7 linked regions of the Homo sapiens genome follow. The protein of the gene in region 1 purifies or fractionates together with the protein of each later gene. This does not show direct contact. Each region holds a gene or a part of one and is shown in the gene's direction. Other genes may lie near its edges.

Evidence for each region.
Region 2: the proteins of ZRSR2 (region 1) and TRPM3 purify together in Homo sapiens (affinity purification with mass spectrometry; 3 studies listed by BioGRID and IntAct, with this or other methods). This does not show direct contact.
Region 3: the proteins of ZRSR2 (region 1) and SF3A3 purify together in Homo sapiens (affinity purification with mass spectrometry; 3 studies listed by BioGRID and IntAct, with this or other methods). This does not show direct contact.
Region 4: the proteins of ZRSR2 (region 1) and SLC4A1AP purify together in Homo sapiens (affinity purification with mass spectrometry; 3 studies listed by BioGRID and IntAct, with this or other methods). This does not show direct contact.
Region 5: the proteins of ZRSR2 (region 1) and SF3A1 purify together in Homo sapiens (affinity purification with mass spectrometry; 3 studies listed by BioGRID and IntAct, with this or other methods). This does not show direct contact.
Region 6: the proteins of ZRSR2 (region 1) and ZMAT5 purify together in Homo sapiens (affinity purification with mass spectrometry; 3 studies listed by BioGRID and IntAct, with this or other methods). This does not show direct contact.
Region 7: the proteins of ZRSR2 (region 1) and TTC33 purify together in Homo sapiens (affinity purification with mass spectrometry; 3 studies listed by BioGRID and IntAct, with this or other methods). This does not show direct contact.

Annotation. Positions count from the first base shown.
Region 1 is NC_000023.11:15,803,682-15,807,938, forward strand, and holds part of ZRSR2 (U2 small nuclear ribonucleoprotein auxiliary factor 35 kDa subunit-related protein 2), read left to right. Parts: intron 1-6; coding exon 7-115; intron 116-429; coding exon 430-516; intron 517-4,257. UniProt on the Homo sapiens protein: Pre-mRNA-binding protein required for splicing of both U2- and U12-type introns. Selectively interacts with the 3'-splice site of U2- and U12-type pre-mRNAs and promotes different steps in U2 and U12 intron splicing.
Region 2 is NC_000009.12:70,551,358-70,555,614, reverse strand, and holds part of TRPM3 (transient receptor potential cation channel subfamily M member 3), read left to right. Parts: intron 1-2,304; coding exon 2,305-2,455; intron 2,456-2,571; coding exon 2,572-2,771; intron 2,772-4,257. UniProt on the Homo sapiens protein: Constitutively active, non-selective divalent cation-conducting channel that is permeable to Ca(2+), Mn(2+), and Mg(2+), with a high permeability for Ca(2+).
Region 3 is NC_000001.11:37,965,505-37,969,761, reverse strand, and holds part of SF3A3 (splicing factor 3A subunit 3), read left to right. Parts: intron 1-26; coding exon 27-191; intron 192-297; coding exon 298-408; intron 409-1,627; coding exon 1,628-1,718; intron 1,719-4,257. UniProt on the Homo sapiens protein: Component of the 17S U2 SnRNP complex of the spliceosome, a large ribonucleoprotein complex that removes introns from transcribed pre-mRNAs.
Region 4 is NC_000002.12:27,691,137-27,695,393, forward strand, and holds the end of SLC4A1AP (kanadaptin), read left to right. Parts: intron 1-2,548; coding exon 2,549-2,618; intron 2,619-3,497; coding exon 3,498-3,547; 3' UTR 3,548-3,833; downstream 3,834-4,257.
Region 5 is NC_000022.11:30,343,148-30,347,404, reverse strand, and holds part of SF3A1 (splicing factor 3A subunit 1), read left to right. Parts: intron 1-885; coding exon 886-1,093; intron 1,094-2,214; coding exon 2,215-2,472; intron 2,473-4,257. UniProt on the Homo sapiens protein: Component of the 17S U2 SnRNP complex of the spliceosome, a large ribonucleoprotein complex that removes introns from transcribed pre-mRNAs.
Region 6 is NC_000022.11:29,739,218-29,743,474, reverse strand, and holds part of ZMAT5 (zinc finger matrin-type protein 5), read left to right. Parts: intron 1-994; coding exon 995-1,057; intron 1,058-2,744; coding exon 2,745-2,825; intron 2,826-4,257.
Region 7 is NC_000005.10:40,724,692-40,728,948, reverse strand, and holds part of TTC33 (tetratricopeptide repeat protein 33), read left to right. Parts: intron 1-472; coding exon 473-604; intron 605-4,257.

The DNA of each region.
Region 1 (4,257 bases):
TGATAGGCAAAGATTACATGAGGAGTGGTTGCTAAGAGAGCAGAAGGCACAAGAAGAATTCAGAATAAAGAAGGAAAAGGAAGAGGCGGCTAAAAAACGGCAAGAAGAACAAGAGGTATGGTAGGAATCACGTAACTAGTGAACAAACTGATTACTTCACCATAATAACTCTCATGAAGAGTTGCCTATCTTGGGAGGTTGGAGTGAGCTGAGATCACGCCATTGCACTCCAGCCTGGGCAGCAAGAGCGGAACTCCATCTCAAAAAGAAAAAAAAAAAAGAGTTGCCTATCTTGAACTTAAAAAAAAAAAACAAAAAACTGATCTTATTCAGTTTGCCAGTGTTTTAAGTTTTTCATCTATGTGCGCTGTATGTGAAATGTTTTTAAAAAGTGACTGAAACAAAGTTACTTTTTCTTCCCCTTTAAAGAGAAAGTTAAAGGAACAATGGGAAGAACAGCAGAGGAAAGAGAGAGAAGAGGAGGAGCAGAAACGACAGGAGAAGAAAGAAAAAGAGGTGATTCCTGTCATGGGATGTGCTGTGTGATGAGTTTGAAGAATAATCAGTAGGCATGTCAGAGTTTGGGTTTTTTTTTTCTCTTTTTCTTGTCATTTCATTGTTTGTTTGGAAAGAATCATATTTCAGTTTAGACATAACACCAGAGTTCCCTTCTGATGCTCTTCTTCGGGTCCGTGCAGTGGCAGATTCCTTAAAGTTTTCTTCAGCTTTACCCTATTTACCCTTTATACTGGGCATTGGCAAATGTTGTAAAGGGCCAGATGGTAAATATTTTAGGCTTTATGGTTTGGTCTCTGTGGCAAACATCCAACTCTGCCAGTGTACCCTGAAAGCAGCCATCGATAATATGTAGATGAATGGGTATGGCTGTGTTCCAGGAAAGCTTTATTTACAAAACAGGCAGCTAGCCCTTGCTTTATAGCAAGTTATGTTCTTCTGAGGTTCTGCTGTATATGAGTTGACTTCTTTAGAGAATAATACTTTGTTTTGTTTCCACATTTATTTAGGTCATAAGAGAACTGCTTATGACATGTCAGCAAGAATTAGAGGATTTAAAGAAATCAGGAACTCAAATATTGAGGAACTAGGAAACAGTTTTTGTTATTTGTATTAAATCTTGACTTCCTCTTCCACTTAGGCTATGAAGATAATTGTAGCTAACACACAGTTGCTTATTTAAAAAAAAAAAAAAATCTGTGAGGCATATGTGTGTATGTATCTTCTCTATCTTCCAGGATTCTTTTTTAAGGATTGATTTGGTATGTTTTGCTGCTATTCCTTGACAGTATATTTATTTCAGAGGTATCACAGCTCATCTTCCCTTGACTGATTCATCAGGATTTGTCTTTTTTGTAATACAGCTAAATTTAAATAGCATAAAATTGGATAATCACCTTATAATTGGGAAAAATGCATGTGTCTTCATTGTAGTCAATATGGGGCAGAAGCAGCCTCCACGATCTTTGTTTTTTGTATCTTAGGCCATCAGTTAATTTCAGTGCAGATTTTAAACACCTTTATTTGAGCACTTCTTTCCAGATGAGGCAAGTTCATGCTAGGTTTTTAGGGGGCAGAAAAATTGTTTGGAACTTGTCATTTTTTTATAGAGAGGAATTAATTCCCATTTTAACAGTAGAGTGTTCCTCAACTGAGGTCTTTCAGGAATTCAGTAACAGCTAAGGCCTCTTTTGAATGCTTTTGTTTCAGAGGAAATCTGTGAGACTTCAAGGAGAAATGAGGGAAATGAAATAGATTCTAAGCTTATAAAAAAGAATCAGCAGTATGTGTTCCTGCTGTATGCTAGACACTTCGCTAGCGGACAGAGACAGAGCAGTGAAAGACACAGTCTTTGCTCTCATTGAGCTAGTTTTTTATATGGGAGTGTGAGATGATAAGCAAAACAGATCATTCAAAATGTGATCATATTAAGTGCTATAAAGAAATAAAGCAGGCCAGGCGTGGTGGCTCACGCCTGTAATCCCAGCACTTTGGGAGGCTGAGGCGAGAGGATCACGAGGTCAGGAGTTCGAGGCCAGCCTGGTCAACATGGTGAAACCCCGTCTGTACTAAAAATACAAAAAATTAGCCAGGCGTGGTGATGGGCGCCTGTAGTCCCAGCTACTCAGGAGTCTGAGGCAGAAGAATCACTTGAACCGGGAGGCAGAGGTTTCAGTGAGCCAAGCTTGAGCCACTGCACTCCAACCTGGGCAATAGAACTAGACTTCGTCTCAAAAAAAAAAAAAAAAAAAGAAAGAAATAAAGCAGAGTGATGTGATAGAGTAATGAGAATAGAGTTGTGCTTCTATAGATTGCCTGCTCAAGGAAATTTCTGAGGAGGTGATGTTTGAGCTGACACCTGAGTGGAGAGATCTCAGCAAGAAGAAGCCTGAAGCTTGAAGGCTGAAAAAAGGCCAGGGAACCTGAAATCTAGAGTCCAAAGGAGAGAAGGGCAGTGGAGGAGGTTGCTGAGGGAGAGGGGGCAGTGGAGGAGGTTGCTGAGGGAGAGGGGGCAGTGGAGGAGGTTGCTGAGGGAGAGGGGGCAGTGGAGGAGGTTGCTGAGGGAGAAGGGGCAGTGGAGGGTAAGCAGAGTCAGATCATGTAGGGCTTCCTGGATTTGAAGGAGGAGTTTGGATTTTATGTTTCCTATAATGGGAAGCCATTGAAGGGGTTTAAGCAGGGAATGACTCTGTCTCATTTATATCTGTACCTTTTAACAGATCATTCATTTAAAAAAAAAATTTTTTTGAGATGGAGTCTCATGCTGTCGCCCAGGCTGGAGTGCAGTGGCGTGATCTCTGCTTACTGCAACCTCTGCCTCCTGGGTTCAAGCAATTCATATGCCTCAGCCCCCCGAGTAGCTGGGATTACAGGTGCCTGCTACCACGCCCAGCTAATTTTTGTATTTTTAGTAGAGACAGGGTTTCACCATGTTGGCCAGGCTGGTCTCGAGCTCCTGACCTCCAGGGATCCACCCGCCTCGGCCTCCCAAAGTGCTCGTGTGAACCACTGCACCAGACTTTTTTAACAGATCATTTTTACTTTACTGAAACCTCTGCCTCCCGGGTTCAAGCGATTCTTCTGCCTCAGCCTCCTGAGTAGCTGGGACTACAGGCGCCCATCACCACACCCGGCTAATTTTTTGTGTTTTTAGTACAGACAGGGTTTCACCATGTTGACCAGAGGACAAGGAGAGAGAGAGGAATTCAAGTCATATTTTTAGGTTTTTAGTTTGAATAGACAGATAGACTGGCAACACTATTCACTGAGGGAGCATTCAGGTGGATGTGGGCCAGGGAGTGTAGAGGACAAGAGTTCTGTTTTGAGCACCACAAATAAGCAACTAGACATACGAGTCTTATGTAATGCTTTAAGGGGCTAGGGAAGATAAGACTGTCTGTTAAACATAGGTACAACTTGTTCAAATGCCAATTAGGTAGAAATTTACTGGCATATTGCAGAACCTCCTTTGCCTTATTAAAAAGTTAGAATTTTCTCCTAAATGCTAATTACCACTGGTCATGTCATATTTTAGCTTCTGCTAAATGTTTATGATTTCATCTAGCATTGTTTTTTGGGTTTTTTCGTTTGTTTGTTTGTTCGTTTTTTTTTAGACAGAGTCTTGCTCTGTCGCCTAGGCTGGAGTGCAGTGGCGTCATCTCGGCTCACTGCAACCTCTGCCTCCTGGGTTCAAGCGATTCTCCTGTCTCAGCCTCCCAAGTAGCTGGGATTACAGGCACGTGCCACCACACCTGGCTAATTTTTGTATTTTTAGTAGTGACGGGGTTTCACCGTCTTGGCCAGGCTGGTCTAGAACTCCTGACCTCAAGTGATCCACCCGCCTCAGCCTCCCAAAGTGCTAGGATTATAGGTGTGAGCCACCATGCCCGGCCTAGCATTGTGTTTTATATTCACTAATACCCCCTTTTACGAACTAGGACATGGTATATATACTCAAATATACTAAGTATTACTATTATTGAAACTATTATAAGACTATTTTAAATATTTTGCAATGTGATCTGGTAAATTTTCTATTTGAATAGAACGTCTCAGCTATGGGCCGGGCACGGTAGCTCATGCCTGTAATCCCAGCACTTTGGGAGGCTGAGGCGGGTGGATTGCTTGAGCTCAGGAGTTCGAGACTAGCCTGGGCAACATGGTGAAACTCCGTCTCTACAGAAAATACAAAAGTTATCCAGGCGTGGTGGTGTGCGCCTGTAGTCCTAGCTACTCGGAAGG
Region 2 (4,257 bases), on another chromosome or scaffold:
CTAAGAAAGGAGCTAATGACCCCTCAGAGCTAGGACTATGCATCACAAGTAGGCCTGCGGAGGTGTGGGAAATGTCTATTAGTGTCCAACAAGATTGTGTCCCCATGATCTCCTGTATTTATGCAACATTCGTCCTGTACAGGTGCATGTGGATGTGCTATGTGTATGCACTGAGCCAGATGATGGGAAATCTTGAGGAGCAACCTTCCACCAGGAATCTTGTGTGGAATACAGACGAATAAACTGGCAATGGTGACACAGTGTGAGAGACCCCCAAAAGGGCAGGCAGAGGGTGCTCTGGGATTGTAAGGAAGATACCTACCCAAGTCCTTACTGGATGGGGCAGCAAGGGAGCTGGGTGGGCTTTGGAAAGCCAGGTGAGCACTAAAGAGTGAGCAGGATGCACCCAGGTGAAGCATGGGAATGGGAGCAAGGTAGCAGAGGGGTCTTTTAGAAGCCAAGCAGCAGCATGGCTCAAAATCAGGAAGTAAGAGAGCGCATGGCATTTCTAGGAACTGCAGGAAACTCAGTCCAGTTTGTGCTCAGAGGGAGAGGTGGGAGGTGGCAAGACACGGCCCAGGGCCAGGCACTCTCAGAGTTTGACTTCATGCTGAAGCCAGGGGGCCTTCATTGCTGAGTTTTCCTTCTAAGGGTGGAAATGATCAGGACCTCTTACAGGGCTGTCTTGGGTGTTTAGTGCCACAACTGCAATAATAAAAAAAAGATTCTTGCTCCTCAAAAATGCCTGATTCTGCATCCAGTCATCTTGGCAGGCAGAACTAAAGGAAGCACTTTGGTCCTCTTTTCTTAGCCATAAAAACCAGGTCTTGGTGTCCTAATGTTATTAAAATCCTCATAGGCTGAGAAGATGCATTTTGGGCCTCAGAGCATGTCAAAAATTACATAATTTTTCCAGCCTAATTCTAGCTCAGTGGGCTCAACTTTCATGGCAATTGAGAATTACCTAGAAAGTTTTAAAAGAAATGCTGATGCCTGGGGCACCCTCAGGGATTCTGATTCAATTGTCTGGAGCCAAGCTGGGCATTGGTATTTTTTAGAGCTCGCCAGGTGATCCCCAGGGCAGCCAGGGTTGAGAATCACTGTAGAATGTGCAGCCTAGCAACGGAAACTCTTGAGAAAGGAATGGACGCCTCTTGCCAAGTACTCCAGCCGAGTAGATTCTGGGTCAACTTTTCAAATCTTCCTGGCCGATCATCAAAGCAGCCTGTGGCAACTGCTGAGACCTCTTGGTGCTCCTCCCACTCCCCCCAACCACCTTTTACAGGTAGATGTAAAGAGCCTTGTTCTAAAGCCATTATAGGGGGCTGGAGAGGAGGGCTACCTCACCCATGCCTGGCACCTCACGGCATCATCTGGCTTCCTGAGCCACATTGTCTGTGCAGCACTAAGAAGCTTTGTCAGGGATTTTTTTCTTTCTTGCATTTACCCGGAAATTCCAAGCAGGCCTCATTAGCACATTACTCACACACAGCCAATCCCACATATCACCTTCCTCCTCACCCCCACCTCCAGGCTTTTTTTTTCCCCCCATTTGCCCATTTATCCACTGCAGTTAGGTTTTGTTTCCTGTGCCCTGAAAAGCACACTTTTGGAATGGAAATGCTGCTGGAAGAACAGGTGTGGCTATGAGCTCCATGATCACGGCCGATCACCCCTCATTGCCCTCCTAATGAAATCCCATCCATCAGGAGCAGAGAGCAACAAGCCCTCTAAATACTTCCCAAGGCACTGCCCTGTGTTGTTCCTTCTGTACTGAGACAGCAAATCGTTAGCTGGAGCTCCCAGGTTGTTTCTTGCAGCAATTAACAGCTGCCCTGTTGTTAATTCCCGATCAATAGTCCCGAGATGCTGCTGCTCTTACAGCTGTCAGGCTGACAGCCTCTACAGCACATTTTGAAAGTAACTTGCCAGTGGTGGGACTTTCTTCTCCCTGGGCACACCCAAGAAAAGTTCTCAATCAGGCTTCAGAAGAGCACCAAGTGCCCCTCACCCGGTGTAGGGGCCTAGCGGCAGTGTGAGCAAGAAGGTGGCTCCACCCCCCTCTTCTGGTCAGGTGATAACTTGGGGAGACTGTGGAACCGAGGCCCCCCACCACCACAGTAGCAGCCCCTTGAGATATTCATGAAGCTCTCATTTTTCAATTTTGGCTTGTTTGGAACTTTTTTCTGTTTGAGATGGCTATATATTTCTTCCATCTAAAACCCTCCTACAAATCCATCTTTTTATTTTTTTTCTAACTCAAATAGCCAGTTTCTCATTTCTTGTGTGTGTTGCTCCCTCCAGCTCCCTGTGGACAGAATGAGACCCGAGAGGATGGTAAAATAATCCAGCTGCCTCCCTGCAAGACAGGAGCTTGGATCGTGCCGGCCATCATGGCCTGCTACCTCTTAGTGGCAAACATCTTGCTGGTCAACCTCCTCATTGCTGTCTTTAAGTAAGTGGGTCCTTTGGAGCACGTGGGATGGATGAGGACAGCAGGGGTGAAGGGGAGTCGATGCTTCAGAAAACAGTGGGTTTTTCTCACTTGATTCTCTTTGGTCTCTATTTTAGCAATACATTTTTTGAAGTAAAATCGATATCCAACCAAGTCTGGAAGTTTCAGAGGTATCAGCTCATCATGACTTTCCATGAAAGGCCAGTTCTGCCCCCACCACTGATCATCTTCAGCCACATGACCATGATATTCCAGCACCTGTGCTGCCGATGGAGGAAACACGAGAGCGACCCGGATGAAAGGGACTACGGCCTGAGTAAGCTTCAAGCGACAGCCGAGCTGCCACAAATCAGAAATCCCTACCACTTCCTATAGGCAATCACGCAGAATCGCATGCCCACCTAGTTCCTCCTACCTCTTGCAGGCTGCAGACAGCTCTGAAGGCTTGGAGAGCATTGGGGGATGAGGGAGTTGACTTGAATGAGAAATAATGTCAGAAAGAAGATGGTAGAGGCTGAAATTGAGCACTCTTAGCCTCATGTCTTTCTTAGAGAGATACAATCAGTCTCCAGCAGGGCTATTTTAGAACCTTCATAAGTTCTAAGTTTCTTGCTTTCCAGAGATCTCAACCCAAAATACATCAATGATATTAATATGCCACCCAAGGCTACATTATATATAATTTAAGCAATAACTTCTGGACCTATAATTTTTTCTGATCTTAAACATTTTCCTAAACCTTAGGGGTTGTGCCTAGATTGCCTCATGAGAAGACCAGCCCAGCTTTCTGTTACTCGGAGGACAAAACAGAAGACCCTTCACCATCCACCTTCCAGCCCAGTGTTTCTAAAAGGAGGTTCTATTAGCATTGAGGCAGAACAATTCCTTGTTGTGTAGGATTGTGCCACACACTGCAGGAGGTTTGGCATATCCAGCCTCCACACATTAAATACTGGTGACTCCCACAGATTCCTAAATACCCTTTGGGTACCACGCTCCATTAAGAACCACTGGGAATCCAATCCCATACCAGCAAGCTCCTATGGTTTCTCAAAGTGTGTCAAACAGGCCACCTACATCAAATCTACTGAACAAGAGCCTCTGGGATTATAGCCCAGGAGTCTACTTCCCTCTGTGTGGTCACCAGTATATCTAAGGTTTGAAACCAAAACGATTTGGTCAACAGCTTCTCTAAATCTGAAGCTCTTAACACCCTCCCTGACCTTGCAATGCCCAACTTCTTTCTAGACATTTACATTAGAGAGACCTGGGAATTCCAGAATTCACTGCTTCCATCTGAAACACAAATTTAAGCAAAGAGAAAAGTTGGAGGGGTCGGGGTGGATGACCTATGAAATAAACCCTAAGCTTCTCGACTCAGGAACTCTAGCCAATGTGGAGGAGCATGGGATACAAAATCAGGGGCAGCGGGATGCTCTAATGAATGATAGCCTGCAGTGGATAACATGCTGAGGGCTAGCTCAGAGTCCCAAAATAATTTACAATACAGCATGAGTCATTTGTGGTAGAAGAGGAACCTCACTTATCCAGAGAGCTTAGGAAGGTGGTGTTTGTAAATACAATGCAGGAAGTAGGATGGTCCAGAGATCCATTTCCTTTCCAGTGCCCACCCCCTCAAAGAAGGCCAGAGAACCTGAATAAGCCAGACATTGGGCTAGATGGGAGCCAGCTCCATGCAGTTGCTGTTCAGGGTTTTCTTGTCGTTATCACCAATGGTAGCAACGAAAGCATTGCCAGGTTACTGGATGCTCAGAAGGGAGGAACAGCCATGTCTGCTTTCT
Region 3 (4,257 bases), on another chromosome or scaffold:
ACTTTTCATTTATGGACCTGCTTTAGGAACAGCGACATCTCACTCATGAAAATGTACAGCGCAAGCAAGCCAGGACAGGAGAAGAGCGAGAAGAAGAGGAAGAAGAGCAGATCAGTGAGAGTGAGAGTGAAGATGAAGAGAACGAGATCATTTACAACCCCAAAAACCTGCCACTTGGCTGGGATGGCAAAGTAAGTCTCAGCACTACCACTTTCTCCCCATTCCCCATTTTGGAAACAGATACAGAGTTTAGTAGGCTAACACTTCTTGGTTTTGTTTTGTTTTTTTCTTTTTTAGCCTATTCCCTACTGGCTGTATAAGCTTCATGGCCTAAATATCAACTACAACTGTGAGATTTGTGGAAACTACACCTACCGAGGGCCCAAAGCCTTCCAGCGACACTTTGCTGTAAGGAATTCAGAGCCATTTTTCCTGGGAATTGAAGTAAAAACATGAGACTTTTAGAGAAAAGAGTAGGAGCAGCCTATGTGGACCACTGGTGTCCAGAGCTGAAGGGAATCAGAGAAGGATGGTTTTAAAATCAAGCCCATGGCATTTGACTTTTGGCACCAATGTTAGTCTTAAATACCTGAGATAGTTTCTGGAGGAATTCTACCGCACCACTCTTTGAACCTTATTTGGTTTTCTCTTGCCTGCTCTTAAACTTCTCTGTTTTTGTCTTTCTGCTAGCATTTTAGACCAATTTCTGACTTCTTGGTTATTTCTCTACCCCATTGCTAATACTCAAGATAAAAAATAGGGCTGACTGATCTCTTTCAGATCTTAAATGGATCTTTGCCTCTTGAGAAAATAAAAAATGAAGGGGCTGATATTTATCAAGCCATTCTTGAGACAGGGTATTGTCCGGATGATACTGCTGTAAGTGGGCTCACCTCTAAGTGGGCTCTACTTAGAGTTCTTAGATTTTGGAAGGAAATTTTACAGAAAGGAAAACATTTATGCTAGACCAAGGATGACAAATTTATATGAACTCCTCTCCCCCTCTCTGAGTCATACATATTACTAATTGATAATGGGTCTTTTTTGCTGAGCCCATGAGTGAGTTCTGAATCCTTCTCAGCACCTCCTACAATGATTGGAGTTGGCATCCAGGATAAAGCCCATGCCATTTACCATCCCTTAGTTAAAACTGCCATCATGTCAGTGTATAATCTCCCTGCTCTCTCCTCACCACATCATTGTGCCTAATAAAAGTCTTCTCCTTTACCTACAAAGATGATGCTGACCTGCCATTAGTAACCCCTATTCATGCAGGTGTTTGGAGTTGCTGGGGCTTTGGTAAGTTCTCCTGCAATATGGGAGATGTAGTGAGAGTTGTGATGTTTTTCTGTGATCTTGACCCAGAGGTTTTATGTATAAGACTACTGGGTCTAGAATCTAGGTTTACAAGCCAACCCAGTGAGGCAAACAATGCAGTGCTGCTTTGAAATACCACCCTTTTGTCAGTCACAGCCAGCTGTTTACAAACATGAATCACAAAAGGAATGCTACCTTTAGGTGGAGTCTTGCAAAGGGCCATGTTAGGATTTATGAGTAGAATGGAGTTAGTGCTCTGTGTTCAGCTATTCCCATTTCACATGATCCTTTTGCTTCTCTCTTCTCCCAGGAATGGCGTCATGCTCATGGCATGAGGTGTTTGGGCATCCCAAACACTGCTCACTTTGCTAATGTGACACAGATTGAAGATGCTGTCTCCTGTAAGTAAGATTTATTTACTGTCTCCTAGGCGAGTACAAATGGCTCTACTCCTTCAATTCAGCATCCTAATACCCTGTGTATCCAGGGTTAAAGGCAGTAGGTTGTGGATATGTAAAATCTAGGACAGTTGTATAATTATTGCATTTCTGTTTTTTGTTTTGTGTTTTTTTGTTTTGTTTTGAGATGGATGGAGTCTCGCTCTGTCGCCAGGCTGGAGTGTAATGGTGCAGTCTTGGCCCACTGCAACCTCTGCCTCCCGGGCGCAAGCGATTCTCCTGCCTCAGCCTACCGAGTAGCTGGGACTACAGGCACGTGCCACCACACCTGGCTAATTTTTTTTTTTTTTTTTTTTTTTTTTTTTTTTTGTGACGGAGTCTCACTCTGTCGCCCAGGTTGGAGTGCAGTGGCATGATCTCGGCTCACTGCAAGTTCCACCTCCTGGGTTCATGCCATTCTCCTGCCTCAGCCTCCCGGTAGCTGGGACTACAGGCGCCCGCCACCACACTTGGCTAATTTTTTGTGTTTTTAGTAGAGACAGGGTTTCACAGTGTTAGCCAGGATGGTCTTGATCTCCTGACCTCATGATCCGCCCGCCTTGGCCTCCCAAAGTGCTGGGATTACAGGCATGAGCCGCCACACCTGGCTAATTTTTTGTATTTTTAGTAGAGACGGGGTTTCACTGTGTGAGCCAGGATGGCCTTGAACTCCCGACCTCAGGTGATCCGCCCACTTCAGCCTCCCAAAGTGCTGGGATTATAGGCGTGAGCCACCATGCCCAGCCTTTGTTTCTGAGACGAGTCTCACTCTGTCACCAGGCTGGAGTGCAGTGGCACGATCTTGGCTCCTGCAACCTCCGTCTCCTGGGCTCAAGCAATTCTCCTGCCTCAGCCTCCCTAGTACCTGGGATTACAGGCATGTGCCACCATGCCCAGCTAATTTTTCTATTTTTAGTAGAGATGGGCTTTCATCATGTTGGCCAGGCTGGTTGAGGTGACGAACTCCTGACCTCAAGTGATCCACCCATGTTGGCCTCCCAAAGTGCTGGGATAACAGGCGTGAGCCACCGCGCCTAATTATTGCATTTTTTTTTTTTTTTTTTTTTTTTTTGAGATGGAGTTTCGCTCATATTGCCCAGGCTGGAGTGCAATGGTGCGATCTCGGCTCACTGCAACCTGTGCCTCCTGGGTTCAAGCGATTCTCCTGCCTCAGCCTCCCGAGTAGCTGGGATTACAAGTATGCGCCACCATGCCTGGCTAATTTTGTACTTTTAGTAGAGACGGGTTTCTCCATGTTGGTCAGGCTGGTCTTGAACTCCTGACCTCAGGTGATCTGCCCACCTCGGCCTCCCAAAGTGCTGCGATTACAGGCGTGATCCACCGTGCCCAGCTAATTATTGCATTTTTAAGAGAAATGAATTAGTCGGCAATACTGATTGTTTCTCCTTTGAGAAGAGCTCTGTGCTGAGTATAAACCAGGGCTTTTAGCCTGGGTCTGTGAACTCCCTTTTATGCAAGATTTTGATTGAATGGTTGTATGGATAGTTTTCTGAATTGATTTTAATGTGTTAAATAATGACTGATATAAAGGAAAATATAGAAGTACCCTCAGTAAGCTTGTGTTAGAGGCTATAGAAACACAGCAGCAAAATACCTCTTGAAGAAAGTGAAGCGGAGTGCATGTCAGGGAATGTGCTGCTGAAGCACATAGAGGACCACCGCCAGGCTTCCTGTTTTCCCAGCAGTAGTAGCTTTCTCTGCCATTAACATTTTCATGGCAGCCTTTTCTTTTCTTCTTTTTTTTTAATTTAATTTAATTAATTAATTTATTTATTTATTTTTTTGAGACAGAGTCTTGCTCTGTCACCCAAGCTGGAGTGCAGTAGCGTGATCTCAGCTCACTGCAACCTCCACCTCCTGGTTCCAAGCGATTCTCCTGCCTCAGCCTCCCGAGTAGCTGGAATTACAAGCGCTCGCCACCACGCCTGGCTAATTTTTTTGTATTTTTAGTAGAGACGGGGTTTTAGCATGTTGGCCAGGCTGGTCTCAAACTCCTGATCTCAGGTGACCTACCTGCCTTGGCTTCCCAAAGTACTGGGATTACAGGCGTTAGCCACCGCGCCCATCCCGGCTTTTTATATTCTTTTCAGTGGATCTATGTCACATTTCACTGTTGGCTGATTAGACAGAAGTAAGGTATTTTACCCCCCCATCCCACCCCCCACTGTTAAATTACAGGCACTTTACTCTCAGTTATGTTTAGCAGGCTGTTCAGCTGTTTGGTCAGCTTGAACCTTGGGCTTCCAACTCTGTTGCCCAGGCTGGAGTGCAGTTGTGCCATCACAGCTCACTGCAATCTCTGCCTCCCAGGCTCAAGTGATCCTCCCACTTCAGATTCCCAAGCTGATGGGACTACAGGCTTGTGCCACCATGCCTGGCTAATTTTTGTATTTTTTGTAAAGATGGTGTGTCACCATGTTGCCCAGGCTGGTCTTAAAGTCCTGTACTCAAGCAATCTGCCTGTCTCAGCCTCCGAAAGTGC
Region 4 (4,257 bases), on another chromosome or scaffold:
TGGTAGAATCTGACTGTGAATCCTTCTGGTCCTGGGCTTTTTTTTGTTGGTGGTAATATTTTTTAATTACTGACTCAATCTCACTGCTTTTTATTGGTTTGGTCAGGATTTCTGTTTCTTCCTGATTCAGTCTAGGAGGGTTGTGTGTTTCCAGGAATTTATCCATTTCTACTAGATGTTCTAGTTTGTGTGCATAGAGGTGTTCATAGTAGTCTCAAAGGATCTTTTGTATTTCTGTGGTGTTGCTTGTAATGTCTCCATTTTCCTTTCTAATTGAACTAATATAGAATCTTCTTTTCTTGTCTAATCTAGCTAATGATCTATGAATTTAGTTTATCTTTTCAAAAACCACCTTTTTTTTCATTGATCTTTTGCAGTTTCTTTTGTTTCAATTTCATTTAGTTCTGCTCTGATCTTTGTTATTTCTTTTATGCTAGCTTTGGGTTTAATCTGTTCTTTTTTTTTTTTTTTTTGAGACAGAGTCTCATTCTGTTGCCCAGGGAGTGCAGTGGTGCGATCTCAGCTCACTGCAACCTCTGCCTCCCGGGTTCAAGCAATTTTCCTGCCTCAGCTCTCCTGAATAGCTGGGATTACAGGCGTGTGTCACCACGCCCAGCTAATTTTTGTACTTTTGTTAGAAGCAGGATTTCACCATGTTGACCAGGCTCGTCTTGAACTCCTGGACTCAAGCGATCTGCCCACCCCAGCCTCTCAAAGTGCTGGGATTATAGGTATGAGCCACCGCGCCCAGCCTCATTTGGTCTGTTCTTGTTCCTCTAGTTCCTTGAGGTGTGACATTAGGTTGTCAATTTGTGATCTTTCAGACTTTTCTCTCTCTCTCTCTCTCTCTTTTTTAAATAGAGATGAGGTCTTGCTATGTTATCCAGGCTGGTCTTGAACTCCTGAGCTCAAGCAATCCTCCTGCCTTGGCCTTTCAAAGTGCTGGGGTTATAGGCGTGAGTCACCATGCCTGGCTCAAGACTTCTTGATGTAGGCATTTAACACTATAAATTTTTCCTCTTAGCACTGCTTTTGCTGTATCCCAGAGGTTTTGATAACTTGTGTCACTATTATTTATTTTGAAGAATTTTTAAATTTCCAGTGATTTCATTGTTAACCCAAAAATCATTTAGAAGCAGATTGTTTAATTTCCATGTATTTGTATAGTTTTGAAGGTTCCTTTTCAAGTTGGTTTCTAGTTTTATTCGACTGTGGTCTGAGAAGATACTTGATATGATTTCAATTTTTTTAAATTTGAGATTTGTTTTGTGGTCTATCATATGGTCTATCTTGGAGAATATTTCAGGCACTGATGAGAAGATTGTATATTCTGCAGTTCTGGAGTAGATGTTCTGTAAATATGTTAGTTGATTTGTTCTGGAGTATAGTATAGGTCCAGTGTTTGTTGACTTTCTGCCTTGATGATCTGTTTGCTGTTGTCAGTGGAGTGTGAAGTCTTCCACTATCATTGTGTTGCTGTCTTTCTCTTTTGTTAGGTCTGGTAGTAGTTGTTTTATGAATCTGGGAGCTCCAGTTTTAGGTGCATATATATTTAGGATTGTAATATCTTCTTGTTGGGTTGATCCTTTTATAATTATATAATAGCCTTCTTTGTCTTTTTTTCAGTGTTGTTGCTTTAAATTCTATTTTATTTGATATAAGAAAAGCTACTGCTGCTTGCATTTGGCTTCCATTTGTATGGAATATCTTTTTCCACTCCTTTACCTTTAGTCTATAAGAAGCCTCACATGTTAAGTGAGTCTCTTGAAGATGGCAGATATTTGGTTTGCGATTTATTTATTTATTTATTTATTTATTGAGACGGAATCTCGCTCTGTAGCTCAGGCTGGAGTGCAGTGGTGTGATCTCAGCTCACTGTAACCTCTGCCTCCCGGGTTCAAGTGATTCTCCTGCCTCAGCCTCCCGAGTAGCTGGGACTACAGGCACACACCACCACACTTGGCTAATTTTTGTATTTTTAGTAGAGATTTTGCAACGTTAGCCAGACTGGTCTTGAATTCCTGACCTCAGGTGATCCACCCACCTCAGCCTCCCCAAGTGCTGGGATTACAGGTGTGAGCCACTGCGCCCAGCCTGTGATTTTTTTTTTTTTTTTGAGTGGAGTATTTAGACCATTTACATTGAATGTTAATATTGAGATGTGAGGTACTGTTACAGTCATCATGTTGATTGTTACCTAGATACTTTTCTTCCTTCATTACATTATTGTTTTATAGGCCCTGTGAGTTTTATGCTTTCAAGAGGTTCTATTCTGGTGCATGCCAACCTTTTGTTTTAAGATTTAGAACTCCTTTTTGCATTTCTTGTAGGTCTGGTCTGGTAGTGACAAATTCCCTCAGCATGTGCTTGTCTGAAAAAGACTTTATTTCTCTTTCATTCATGAAACTTAGTTTTGTTGGATACAAAATTCTTGACTAATGTTTATTCTGCTTAAGGAGGCTAACAATAGGACCCCAATCCCTTCTGCAGTTGTAAGGTTTCTGGAGAGAAATTCTTGTGAATAAAACAATCCATCTTTTCTTTTTAGCTTCCACCAACACTTTCTTCCAAATATCCTGAAGATGACCCAGACTACTGTGTGTGGGTCCCACCTGAAGGTAGATTGTTTTTACTTTTTTTTCCTCTAAGGTTCATTTATTTATATTTTTGAATAGGTAATATAGATTTAAGGTTCAACATAAGAAAGTTACAAGAGTATGTAGTGATAATTTGTATACCATGTTTGGATCCTTATTCAAACAAACAACTGTTTAAAAAAATTATTAGCCAGTCAGATAATTTTGAACACTACCTGGATATTTGATGATACTAAGAAATTATTTTTTATTTTTTTAAAGTGTGAATGATGTTGAGTTATGTTTTTTGGAAAAAGTCCTTGTCTTCTAGGAATATATACGGAAGTGTTTACAGGTGTAATGTTATCTGGGTTTTACCAAGTCAAAAGAAAGGAAAACAATTCTGGCTGTGCCTCAGCTACTCGGTTGTTTTCCTCACAAGACAACCAATTGTTGTTAGTTTCTTATGGATACTTATATATAAAATGCTAAGTAGAGAGGAGCATCTATAGAAAAAAAATCATAAAAGTTAACCTGCTGGATCAAAGGTATAAACATTTTAAAGATATTATAAATTGCATTCTATAGAGATTGTACCAGTTTTATGCTCATACACACACCCTTAAAGCAATGTATGAGATACTTACTTCCTCATATGTTCATCACAGCTTGAGATTTCTAATATATTAGTAACTAATATAATTTAGTTACTTGAGATGTCTGCTTTTTCTATGCTAACAAATGTTAGGGTAGAAATGAAAGAGGGCTGTATTTTGAAATTTCATACAAAAAGTAAAATTTCTACCGTAGAATAAACCTTTTTGTCTATTTTACTTTTTGGCCTACTGATATCTGGATATCTTTTCTCTCCTGACTTTGGAAGAGTAAATAATGTATTTCTTTTTTTATATTCTGATCTAGGTCAAAGTGGAGATGGCAGAACCCATCTTAATGACAAGTATGGCTATTGATTGCTTCAGAATCCCAAAAGAAAACCTTGTGGACCATGTGACATGGAATATTTGGGATAATGTATCAAATTGAATGGCCAGAGAAGTTTAGATGATTATTTGTAAGATCTGGTGACTGGCTTTTCGTTCTGTGTTCTTGGCTTCCTAAATTTATCTGCCCATATGATTCTCATGCATTTGATATTTATGTTTAAAAGTGTTTATATATGTATGTAAAAAGGGAACCATATGTTTTGAGAATTTGTAAAGTGAGAGACATGATCCTATTAAAATAAGAAGGCAAAAATGTTCCTAATATTTTATTTTATTTTATTTTTTTTAAGAGACAGGGTCTTACTCTGTCACCTAGGCTGGGGTACAGTGGTGCAATCCTAGCTCACTGTAGCCTTGAACTCCTGGGCTCAAGCAATCCTCCCACCTCAGCCTCCCAAGTACCTGGGACTATAGGCATGTACCACCACCACACCTGGCTAATTATTTTATTTAAATTTTTTGGAGAGATGAAGTCTTGCCATGTTGCCCAGGCTTGTCTTGAACTCCTGGCCTCAAGTGATCCTCCTGCCTCAGCCTCCCAAAGCACTGGAACCTCATTTTTTTTTCTTTTTTTCTGAGACAGGGTCTCACTCTGTTGCCCAGAGTGAGTGCAGTGGCATGATCACAGCTTACTGCAGTGGCATGATCACAGCTTACTGCAGTCTCAACTTCCCAGG
Region 5 (4,257 bases), on another chromosome or scaffold:
GGATGTTTCCTGTGTGGGCCTCACCAGTATAATGGGGGTGGTTTTAGGGAGTACTTGGACAAGGCGTTAAACCAACTATTTGTTTTTTGTTTGTTTGTTTGTTTCTTAAAGACAGGGTCTTGCTCTGTTTTCCAGGCTGGAATACGGTGACACGATTCTAGCCCACTGCAGCCTCAGACTCCTGGGCACAAGTGATCCTCCCACCTCAGCCTCCTGAGTAGCTGGGACTAGAGGCACACACCACCATGCCCAGTTAATTTATTTTTATATTTTTTTGTAGAGTTAGGGTCTTTTCTTGTTGCCCAGGCTCAAATCAACTAAATTTTCATGTCTTTCAGTCTTTCTTGTTACTCAGAGGACAAAGTCTAGGTTTGGTGCTCATGTACCTTTTACACCTCTCCAGCACTTGCTACCCCTTTGAACTAAGAGAATTAGTCTCAGCAAACTTCCAGCTAAACTTTGACAGTATTACTTTGTTTTCATTATGTTCACTTTTGACTACCTTTTGTTGGTAAAGGCATACTGATTTTTTTTTATTTGAAGTAGTAATATGTATTCTCCATCTTAAATAGATTTTTTTTAAAGTAAATTTTATTAAAAGAAATGAGCGATAGCCTAGATGGTTTTGGAAATGGCAGAACTGGAAAAGGAGCTAAGGAATGACTGGGTTCAGGGAAACCCTGTGGCAGAGGTGGCCTGGTTCAAGCTGAATGAGGCAGATGGCACTGATCGCCAATGCCAGGAAGCTAGAGGAGGACGTCTGCTGAGGGATGGGCTGGTTTGAGCAGTGGGTGGTGGCAAGAAGGACGTTCCAATGGGCAGTGTTCTAGATCACAGCAGGCACAAGGGAGTGGTGTTTATTCTTGTTGTTTTTTCTTCCTCCAGAAACGGGCCTGAATTTGAAGCTAGGATCCGACAGAACGAGATCAACAACCCCAAGTTCAACTTTCTGAACCCCAATGACCCTTACCATGCCTACTACCGCCACAAGGTCAGCGAGTTCAAGGAAGGGAAGGCTCAGGAGCCGTCCGCCGCCATCCCCAAGGTCATGCAGCAGCAGCAGCAGACCACCCAGCAGCAGCTGCCCCAGAAGGTTTGGAGCCCAGTGCCCCCTTCACTTACGCAGGGCTTGAGAGGGAAACAGGGATAGGGAGGGAGTACACAATTAACTCCAAATCTCACAACCACCCAGGGAGAGAAGTGAGGTCGTTATCCCCATCTCTCAGAGGCAGACCGAGGCCCAGACAGCAAAGTACTGATGTTAGTTGGCATTTCCCGAGCACTGCTTGTCAAGCTCTGTGCTTGGTACTTCAGGAGTCTTGTCTCATTGACTCCTCACAGAGGCTGTATGAGGAACCTGAGAGTTGGGGGACGTGTGATTTATTCAAGGCCTTGCTCAGGGTGTGAGGGCAGTGCCGTGATGTGAGGGCAGCACTTCCTACTTGGCTGTGCTGAAGGATGCAGTGTGGCCTGTGGGCTCCTCCTTGTGCCATCCCTTCCCTTCTATCTCTTCTTCCCAGGACCCCTCCATCCTGGCCTCCCCTGATACCACCTTCCCTGTGCTGAGGCCCAGCACTAGGGACTATTAGGATTATGAATGAAGAGAGAGGCTGACATGTTTTTCCTCCTGTCCAGACCTGCCTTCTGCACTCCTGAACCATGGTGGAAAAGGCAGTCCCTCCTTTTGCAGTGGGCTATAAAGGTTGAAGTCAGGTTCTAAGACCTTGCGTTGCAATGAGGCCTAGGACCTCAGGCTACCTCAGTTTCTTCATCTGTAAAGAGGATTCACAGTACCTGTGCTACCTCATCGTTCATGCGGAGGTCATGGAAACACTTTGTACAGTGGGGTTTTCTGCACACATGTAGGCCTTCTGCACATCCATCCCTCTTGGATGGGATTTAATAAGTCCTATTCTTGTTGGATCTTCTGTCACCCAGTTTTGGCCCTCAATTTCAAGGCAGGAGCAGAGATACAGAGGGGAATGGTTCTCACTCAGCCATTCAGGAAGTTGAGGCCATAGTTGGCTGGGAAGTCAATGCTCTTGTGATTTAGAATTCTCTCACACCAAGTGCTAGTGGTGTGTGCATAATTAACAGAAGTCTAGAGGTTCACAGCATCCTGCTGAGGGGTGCATGCCCATGTCCCCTCCCCTCCCCTCCCCTGGAGCCTGTTCACCCCTGTGCCTCTCGCCTCATACTCCCTTTGCATCTTAGGTCCAAGCCCAAGTAATCCAAGAGACCATCGTGCCCAAAGAGCCTCCTCCTGAGTTTGAGTTCATTGCTGATCCTCCCTCTATCTCAGCCTTCGACTTGGATGTGGTGAAGCTGACGGCTCAGTTTGTGGCCAGGAATGGGCGCCAGTTTCTGACCCAGCTGATGCAGAAAGAGCAGCGCAACTACCAGTTTGACTTTCTCCGCCCACAGCACAGCCTCTTCAACTACTTCACGAAGCTAGTGGAACAGTACACCAAGGTGCCTGGGCAGGATGGGGCTGGGGTCCTGGGCCCAGGAAAGGAAAACATCTTATGCTTGGAAGCACTGTGTCCACTCACTGTCTACAAGGACATCGCTTCTCCATGGGGCCTCTGAGCAAATGTTTTGAATCCCAGTTTAATGTAAAACCTTGATTTCTATTCAGTTATTTCTTTAAGTGCAACACAGACTGCCGGTTTCTAAAGAGAAGGGAAATACATGCTTGCTAACTACCATTAGGCGATTGCCTGCTATGTGACAAGGCCACGTGGTGCTTGCTGCTTTTAAGTGCATTTCCGTTTTCAGTTGCCTAGTAAGGCCCTGAGAAGAAGCCAACCTTTAAGAGTTGCCTCCTTTTACCTAACTTAGTCCTCACAAGAAGCCATGAGGTGTTTTCCCCCCATGTTTGAGAAGCAGAAACAGGCTCAGAAAGGTGAAGTCACGTACTCAAGGTCTGTCAGCTAGTAAGTACTATGCTGAGATTTAAACCACATTTGACCCTAAAACTTTGGTTCTTCAGCTTATAAAGTGCCTTAAATTGGAAACAGCATTTAAATAGGTGTTGAGAGACACTTTGATGTCATGTAAGTCAGTATAACTAACATCACTAAGAAATTATGTATGCAGCATCTTCTCATTTAATCTCCGGTAGCCTATAAGGTAGCCACTATTGCTATGTTCACTTTACAGAAGAGAAAATTGAGGTGCAGTGAAGTTAGCATGGCCAGGGTCACATAGCTAGGAGGTGGCAGGGCTGGGGCTTGAGCTCTGGCATTTTTACTCCAGACCCTAAGAACTCAATTATCATTTGACAGAGCTGCAATCAAGAATCAGGACAAGTCAGTTCTGGCATTTAAAATAATCAGATTATTAATTTATTGCAAAGTGCACTGACAGCTTTGCCTGTGGCACATTTTTCTTGCTACACATGTCATGGAGGTTGTTTTCCTTCCCTTTACAGTGGGATGGTCTGTACATCTCTTCTTCATATCCAGAAACAACACCTCAAAGATCTGACTTGAAAGGACTTGAGAATTTCCTAACTCTACTCACTTTTAAGTACATAATTAGAATTTTAACAATGTGTGTGTTTAGAAAATGACCAAATCCAGAAGCTAGTATGGTAGCTAAAATAACAGTCATTCAAGGCCCAAGGCCCAAGGGTTTCTATAAATATGCAATATCAATTTTAAATGAACCCTGGATTAATTTCTCCCAGTGGACTGCTTCCAGGGTTAAAGGTCCCAGATCACTTTTTATTCTGTTACTTTCCTGTTTTTTCTTCAGAACTTGGGTATTGGCATTTACCACTGTAACTTGAGGTTCCTGCTGTCTGTTCTAGCCATGGAAGACTGAGCAGATAGATTCTTGGGGTAGAGGTGGAAGGAGGATTGGGATAGGGCCGAGCCACTTTGCCAGTGGCAGTAGAAGCTGTTGGGGCTGTTTAGAACAAAGGCAGCATTTGTTCTCTCAGTAAGTATACATTGTCAGACATTATTCAGGGGGCTGGAGATGTAATCGTGAACAAAAGAGAAATCCCTGTCTTCATGGAGTTTCTAGTCTAGTGAGGAGGAGTCAAGTGCATTGTCAGTGTCTGTTACATGGTGCTAAATACTACAGAGAGAAAGCAGGGAGCAGAAATAGAGGGAGGTGGGGCAAGTACGCTGCGGTTCTGAATAGGATAGTCAGGGGGGACCTGCGTAGTGTTTTTGAAAGGATGAGAGCAGGTCAGTGTCATGAAAGCAGCCGTCTCATACTGACCGTGTTCTGGGTAATCGGCTAGTG
Region 6 (4,257 bases), on another chromosome or scaffold:
TGGGTGACAGAGTGAGAACTTGTCTCAAAGAAAGAAAAGAAAAATAGGAAAAATCAGAGGAAACTAGGGTTAAGATTAGGATCAGAGTGATTGCCGATGCTACAGAGTGATTGTCGGAAGTCCTGTCCGCGGCGGTGGCTGGTCTGGCCCTGAGTGCCCTACAGCTGGTGGAAGGAGGGGAGACAGAGGCCAGGGATTGCAGTCTTGCCTGTGGAGCAGTGCCTGGATCCTGGGATTGGCTGGTGGGCTTCCTGGGCACTAGGATTTACTTAAAAATTTTTAGCATTTTATTTTGAAATAATTATAGATTCACAGCAAGTTGCAAAGATAATAATGAGAAGTTCCATAGTGCCAGGATTTTTTTAAAGTATTATACCTCCAGGCTGGGCCCAGTGGCTCACACCTGTATTCCTAGCACTTTTGGAGGCCAAAATGGGAGGATCGTGTGAGCCCAGGAGTTCAAGACCAGCCTGGGCAACATAATGAGACACCAGCTCTACAAAAAGATAAAAAATATTAGCTGGGCATGGTGGTGCACAGCTGTAGTCACACCTAGTTGGGAGGCTGAGACTGGAGAAGGATCACTTGAGCCCAGGAGGTAGTGGCTGCAGTGAGCCATGATTGCACCACTGCACTCCAGCCTGGGTGACAGAGCGAGACCCTGTCTCTAAAAAACAAAAAAACCCAAAGTCCCCAGACTCTCCAGCTGACTCCCTCGTGCCAAGTTGAGAACTGCTGGCATGAAACTTGGTCCTTGTCTTTGGCCCGTCCTGCGTGGGGTGGGATGGATTGAGGTCACCTGCAGCTCGGATCCATCTGCCCAGGACTCCCACCTGTGGTCATCTCCTGCTTCCACTCCTCCGTGGAACAGGAAACTCTTCTTTCTGCACAGCTGTGTCGAGATAAAGGGTCCATATGCCCCTGTGGCTTCCACTTCCTGCCTCCTTTGGTGGAGCCTGAACCATCCGAATCCCGTCCCTCTCTTCTCTCGCAGATGCAGCTGCCATCTTGCTGGATGAGCAGAACAAGCGGCCCTGCAGGAAGTTTCTACTGACAGGTAAAGTCCTCTGCACAGCTCAGGTCCCTGCGGGGACCTGCGATATCCAGCCTGCCCCACTTGGACCTCTGCAGAGTGTCTTCCCCGACCCGGGCCACCATCCCAAGCCCACTTTGCAGCAGTGGCTCCAGCTGACTGGCCAGTCAGGGCCTTCCCAAGTGTGTCTCAGGACCTCCTAGAGTCTGGTCCTCAGCTCTTCAGATCTAGAATGTGATTATATCAGCTCACCTAGAACAAGCAAGGCGTGGGAGATTACATGTAAATCCAAGAGACACTTATGGGTGGAATAGACTTGTTGATTAAGTTAGCCTGGGAACCTGGCCTCCTTCCCAGCAGGCAGAACTTCAGAGAGTAACAGGGTTGATGATCTGAGGAAGTTCAGGATCAGAACCAAGGATGCTAGGTGTAGATTTGACTGCTCAGTACTCAGCTACTAGAGATGCATATAGGTCAGAGAGATAAAGGGCCGAGCATGGTGCCTCACTCTTGTAATCCCAGTACTTTGGGAGGCTGAGGTGGAAGGAATGCTTGAGGCCAGGAGTTTGAGACCAGCCTGGGCAACATAGCGAGACCCCATCTCTACCAAAAAAATTTTTTTTAATTAGCTGGGCATGGTAGCACACACTGGTAGTCCCAGCTACTAGGGAGGTTGAGGCAGGAGGATCACTTGAGCCCAGGAGTTCAAGGCTGCAGTGAGCTATGATTGCACCACTGCACTCCCACCTGGGCAACAGAGTGAGGACCCTGTCTCTTTTAAAAAAAGACAGAGCAAGAGGTAAAACCTCAGTAAGTGAAGGAACCAAAGACAGATACAAATAAGAGTAGGAAAAATAAGATAAAACCAAGAGAATAGTCTCCTCCATGCTTGCCCTTGAGGTCCTATGTATTCTCTAAGGGTTTGGCTCTGAGCTTCCTGGCAGCCATGGCAAAGAGGAAAACTATGATGATTCACATGGTTTGTAAGGGAGCTTAGCACTGGGGAGAGGTGCTGCAGCTGAACTAGGGAAACTGGGTGAATGTCCAAGCTCCCCTAGGATGGGCACCAAGCCTGCAGATCAGGGGCTTCCCTACAGACTTTGCCTTGATGTGAATATGTCACTGGTAGGTTATCCTGGCTTGAGACACCTCCAGCCTCCCAGTATCTCGACATACATTTTGGTCTCCTTGGTTGAAAGAGGGGAAGCCACCCCAGATTTTGGTGCCTCTTTGGCAAAGCTGCCACTGAAGCCTTTCTAAGGAGCAGTCCAATTGCTCCCGTGAGCCAGGTAGGCAGGCAGAATACTAGGCTGGGCATAGCACGTGCTGCGGCTTGGAGTGGAGAAAGGAAGCATTGCCCTTTCAGGAACCCATATGTAGTTCATCGAGGCAGGGCTGGGAGGGCTGGTGACAGAGACAGCCTGCAGAGGCTTGCGAGGCCCAGTCATGACAGGCTTCAGTTGGAAGTGATCCCCAGCATGGGGGGCAGCTGGAGAAGGGTCGTGAGCATGTGGCATGATAGGTGAGAAGTCGCTCTGGCTGCTGAATGGGCAGGGCCGGAGAGATTCCATTTTCTGTCCCGGATCAGGGTTGCTATTCTTTAGGCCCTGAAGTCCTGCCCCTAAGATTCTGGGATCCCTCATCTGGGCACCCCTCAGCCCCTGTGGGGAGCCCCTCCCGAGCAGCGAGTAACTCTGTCTTCCTGCTGCAGGCCAGTGCGACTTTGGCTCCAACTGCAGATTTTCCCACATGTCAGAGCGAGACCTGCAGGAGCTGAGCATCCAGGTGGAGGGTACGTCTCGGGATGCCCTGGGCTAAGCGGGAGTGGGGTGCTGGGGCATGTGGGCTCTGAGACCGGGGAAGCTGGCCTATGCCTCCCTATCTCCCCATCATTGGCAACCAAGGGCCACCCAGGGTGATGCGGAGCCCTGAGCCCCCGGTTTGGGCCAGGTGTTAGGAACAGCTTCAGCATGAGTGGAGAAGGCAGGCCTGTGTCCCCTTACAGTGGAGCCTGTGTGGCTTCCTGCCTGGGAGCCCTGAAGGTGCACCTCAGCCCCACCTGGACCCTGTGGCCAGCCCAGCAGTCATTGGTGGGTACACCCCATCCCTTCCTCAATCAGGCAGCATACCCAGTCCCCACTTGGCACCAAGCAGACCCCTTACGACAGTCTAGGGATAAGGAGTTTAGGAACGCACCTTCCCTGCCCTCTGGAGTCTCACAGCCTGGTGATTCCAGGGAGGGGCAAGTTCAGCTTCCATGGAAACTGACATCTCGCCTTTGGGAAATTCACTCCTCTAGTTAGAGAACAAGGAAGTTCTGACTGAGATGGTGTTTATCAATCTTCTTCCACAGCCTCTCACTGAACAGGTGGGGAAACTAAGGCCAACATTCAGACTGAAAGGCCTCGCGTGAGCCCCCCAGCAGGTTGGGGGCAGACTCCAGGTCTCTCAGTGCCTGCCCCCTTAAGCTTCTCTGTCCAGGAGGCCTCAGGGTAGCCAGTGAAGGTCTGGGGCAGCTTGGCCTTTGCCCTGATCCCCCTACGGGCCTCACTCCCCTCTGACCAGTTAGACACTGCAGGCTCCGTGCCCTGCCCTGGGAGCCAGTGGTGCTGTGGCTGCAGCCCCGGGACCAACACAGGGTTTCCAGGAGCATTTTTCCCCAGGGTGGAAGCAAGGCCTTGTGGGACTGGCCAGCAAGTCCTGGCAGCAGCGGCAGCTGCAGCTCTTCCCTGGCTATGGGCTCTCAGAGGACGGCTGGCCCATGGTGGGACGAGCACGGGGCAGTGGGCCTGGAACTGGAGACGATGCCGAGCGGGGACAGGAATGGGGAGAGGCCCAGGGAGGCTGGGAACAGAGTCCCAGCTGGCAGCTCTGACAGTCCCAGCTCTGCCACGTCCTCTGTAACCTTGGTACGTGGCTTAACCTCTTGGAGGCTGTGTCCTGTCGAATGTGATGTCTCTAAGGATGAAGCAAGATGACACCTGTACAGCCCAGGGCCCGGCCCCAAGTGAGCTCCAGAGACCAGGGCCCGGCCCCGAGTGAGCTCCAGAGACCGAGGCCTGGCCCCGAGTGAGCTCCAGAGACTGGGGCCTGGCTCTGAGTGAGTGCTAGTCAAGTGTATGATTACTTTCCTCTGGCCCAAGACTCCATCCCAGATGACTTGGCGACTCTGACCCCATCAAACGCTCACACCCAGCTTGTATAAATTCCATTCGTTGATTGGT
Region 7 (4,257 bases), on another chromosome or scaffold:
TGGTTTGAAATGCCCAGTAGTGAGAAGGCCTAGGGAATGTTTTAAATACTTTTTATAACATAAAGATGTTCATTAGGGACGGGATGGCTGGTTGAACAAATTAATTCACCTAGTTTAATGGCAATACCTGGGGTTCCCTGAAAACCACATTGTAAATAGAATAAATGGAAGTGGAATTGGGAGTTCAAAATACCTCTGAGCCACCATAGTTAGGATATGACCACTTGGTTTTGACCAGATGGACATAAGATTCAATAACTGGAAAGGGAATCGTTTACATTTTCATAGTTATATAAGGGGTGAAAAGAGAACTATAATTTCTTACCCTGAATGGCAGAGTAAGGGGTAAAAATCACCGAAATGCTATTTTTACTGGACTAAAAATATATCTTAAAAAATGAAAAGGGTTTTTTATGTAGTTGCTAGTTTATGAATATTACTGACAGATTTTTTGGTCTTTTTTTGCCTATAGGTGCTAATGTCTCTTCATGAAATGTTCCCAGCAGTACATGCAGCAGAAATGGCCGTCCAGCAAAATCCACATTCATGGGAGTCTTGGCAGACTTTGGGACGTGCTCAACTTGGTTTAGGAGAGATAATCCTGGTGAGGAAGTCAGATTATTATAATGCAGAAATTTTAAGTATATTTTGACTTTTTTTTTTTTTTGAGATGGAGTCTTGATGTCACCCAGGGTACAGTGCAGTGGTGCAATCTCAGCTCACGGCAACCTCCGCCTCCTGGGTTCAAGCGATTCTCCTGTCTCAGCCTCCTGTGTAGCTGGGACTATAGGCATGCGCCACCATGCCTGGCTAATGTTTTTGTATTTTTAGTAGAGACGGGGTGTCACCATGTTAGTCAGGCTGGTCTTTAACTTTTGACCTCAAATGATTCTCCAGCCTCGGCCTCCCAAAGTGCTGGGATTACAGGCGTGAGCCAACATGCCCAGTCTATTTTGACATATTTTTGATTAACTGAACCCAAAAGTGAATAGCCGTTTATCAAGTCTATACAAAAAACAATTAGCAAATTACTTCTTAAAGGTATTAATCCATAAACACAGTTCACAGGTATTACTGAACATCTTTTTTATTATAGACACTAATTATATCATGATCAGAATATTTTTCAGTTACTTGACATCATGGATATTAAAAAAAATTTAACATAAAACATTGGCATTTGGTAAACCTTATTTAAATAGACAATAGGCAACTTTTTGGCTTAGTTCTTTGGATCATTACATTTACCACATTATAAAGTGGTATTAGTATCACTGTGGAGACAAAACCGCTGATAGATTATACAGGGGAAGGAAGACAGTAGAATATGGGAGGGTAATGGTGATGAACATTTAGACTGAAAAGTTGTTAGGCTTATTGAGGGGATAAAGAGGAAGAGTAGAAATGTGTGCAAATGAAATACTCATTGTGTAATGTTTACCGTAAACTGGTACCTAATGCATCTCTCAATTTGTCTGGACTATACCTTGTTAGTAGCAGAGGCTATCTAGGTAAGAATTAGCTGTGACAGCTGTCCTGTTGTTTTTCTTTTGGCAGGGCTATATACACCTGATAGCTAACGAAATTTAACTTCCTAACAAGTGTTTGCAAATCTAATATACAGTGCCAAATTTCCTCCTTGTTATTAAGTAAATTAAGATTTTAAAAATGGTTTTATTTTTTACAGTTCAAAATAAAACATTTTAAAAGTTTCTTGCAAGACTAAAATTACTGATAAATTCAAAATATAAACTTACTAACAGTGGTTTTAGTAAATTGTGGATGACTGAGCTTTTTTTCTGGCATTCTTATAAATGTATCATTATTTCTACTTACCAAAAAAGGTGTTTGTCAAATTCTCAGAAATAGTAAGGAATTTGTATGAGAAAATAATTGATTTGATTAAAGTAAGTTAATGATAATCTAAATGAGATTCACAGTGATAGAAACCATTTTAACCAAGTACTGTTTTTTTCTTGCCATTTAGCACTGTCAACTTCTCTCTTTTTACATGAAGACTTAAATCATACCAGAGTTGGAAAAAAGAGTTCAAAGAATTTAGTTTTCTAACATTAACAGGGGAAGAAAACCCTATCATATAATACTTTTTCCTTGCCTCCCTTATTAAAAATTTATACATCACTATCTCTTTTGCCAATAGTGTCTATGGTAATGGAACAAATCTCTAGGACATAATATTTAGTAAAGATTGTCCTTTATAAAGAAAGAAAATACACTGCAGGTGAGACGGAGATACTTTGAATCATCCAATAAAAATAATTTAATATTTAAATTTTTTTGAATAAGAGTACCAGTTCGACTTTTTTTTTTTCTGTTGATATGGCTCTATTCATTAATACTGTGAAATTCTTAGAAGAATTGAAAGTATTTTTTTTTTGCCATTTAAATGTAATTTTTAGGAATCTTCTCTGTTTTTATGTAGATTTAAGCTGTTCTCTTAAAAGACTAGAATGGTAAAAAAAAAAGATGACTCAAAATGTCATAACGAAGGGACACTATGTAAAATATATTGAAAGCAAGCTAGAATTTCTAATATCTAACAATTCTTACTATATATACATATGGACTAAAACCATAGGAAATTATGTATGTAAATAGCACAGGCAGTAAATTAAAAGTCAGTAGTTGGGTATATCTCCATGAATAATTATTTAAACTTTGTAAGAGTTGGATGTGAACATTGGAAAATGTTTATAGGAGATATATATATATAAAATATGTATGTATATGGTATACATTTTATATATATATACGTGTGTGTGTGTGTATATATATATATATATAAAAGACTTTATGAGAATGAGATTTTAAGAAGTGGAAGGATGAGAGAATAAGAAAGCTGAAGCCAGGCGCGGTGGCTCAAGTCTGTAATCCCAGCACTTTGGGAGGCCGAGGCGGGCGGATCACAAGGTCAGGAGATTGAGACCATCCTGGCTAACACGGTGAAACCCCGTCTCTACTAAAAATACAAAAAATTAGCTGGACGTGGTGGCGGGCGCCTGTAGTCCCAGCTGCTCGGGAGGCTGAGGCAGGAGAATGGCGTGAACCTGGGAGGCGGAGCTTGCAGTGAGCTGAGATCGCGCCACTGCACTCCAGCCTGGGTGACAGAGCAAGACCTGTCTCAAAAAAAAAAAAAAAAAAAAGCTGAAGAGAATGGTTCTGGGAGTTAAAAATTCTGTATGAGGGAATGGGGATGGTGAGAAAGGAATACATAAGGGATTTATCCTGAAGAAGAAGGTAGAGAGGGAAGGAGACTGGGAAAGGTAATGAATACCAGGAGGTAACAGTATCAGGAAGGATTCTTCTGTTGGCTTTCCAGGGTTCTCAGCCTTCAGTGCTGGAACTAGCTTTGTGGCTTCCCTTCTTCGGGCTCTGTGTAATTCATTGCCAGCTTTTGCTTTTCTTCATGCCAATGTGCAATAAATACTAATTTTGTTTACTAATGTTTTCTCTGTTTTCCAAGTCTCATTTTAGCCATTGGTTTTAATATTTTGCATGAGCAAATCTTTAATTAGAAATTTCAGTTGCATCATTTGATTCTTTTTATTGTTTCGCTTTTGTAATGGTAGTAATGGGATGGACAAGTGATAATTTCCAGACAAAAGGAAGATGATTGAGAGTTTTTAAAATTTCACTTGAGGGGCTGGGCATCCTGGCTCACGCGTATAATCTCAGCACTTTGGGAGGCTGAGGCAGAAGGATTGCTTGAGGCCAGGAGTTTGGACCAACCTGGGTAGCATGGCAAGATCCTATATTTACAAAAAAAAAAAAAAAAAATTTGGCTGGGCATGGTGGCTCATGCCTGTAATCCCAGCATGTTGGGAGGCTGAGGTGGGTTGATCACCTGAGGTCAGGAGTTTTGAGACCAGCCTGGCCAACATGGTGAAACGTCGTCTCTACTAAAAATACAAAAATTAGCCAGGCATGGTGGTGTGTGCCTGTAGTTCCAGCTACTCAGGAGGCAGGAGAATATCTTGAACCTGGCAGGTGGAGGTTGCAGTGAGCTGAGATCGCACCACTGCACTCCAGCATGAGTGACAGAGTGAGACTCCATCTCAAAAAAAAAAAAAAAAATCCACTTGTAAATTTTTAGTTTAGTTAATTACTGTAGACATTGTTTGAGTCAAGCTGCATTATCTTTTTTATAATTGAATAGTACAAATTCTTGAATTATAGTCTTTATAAATGTTGTATGTTGACACTTAAGAATTGAGTTTTTTTCTTGAAAAATAAAGT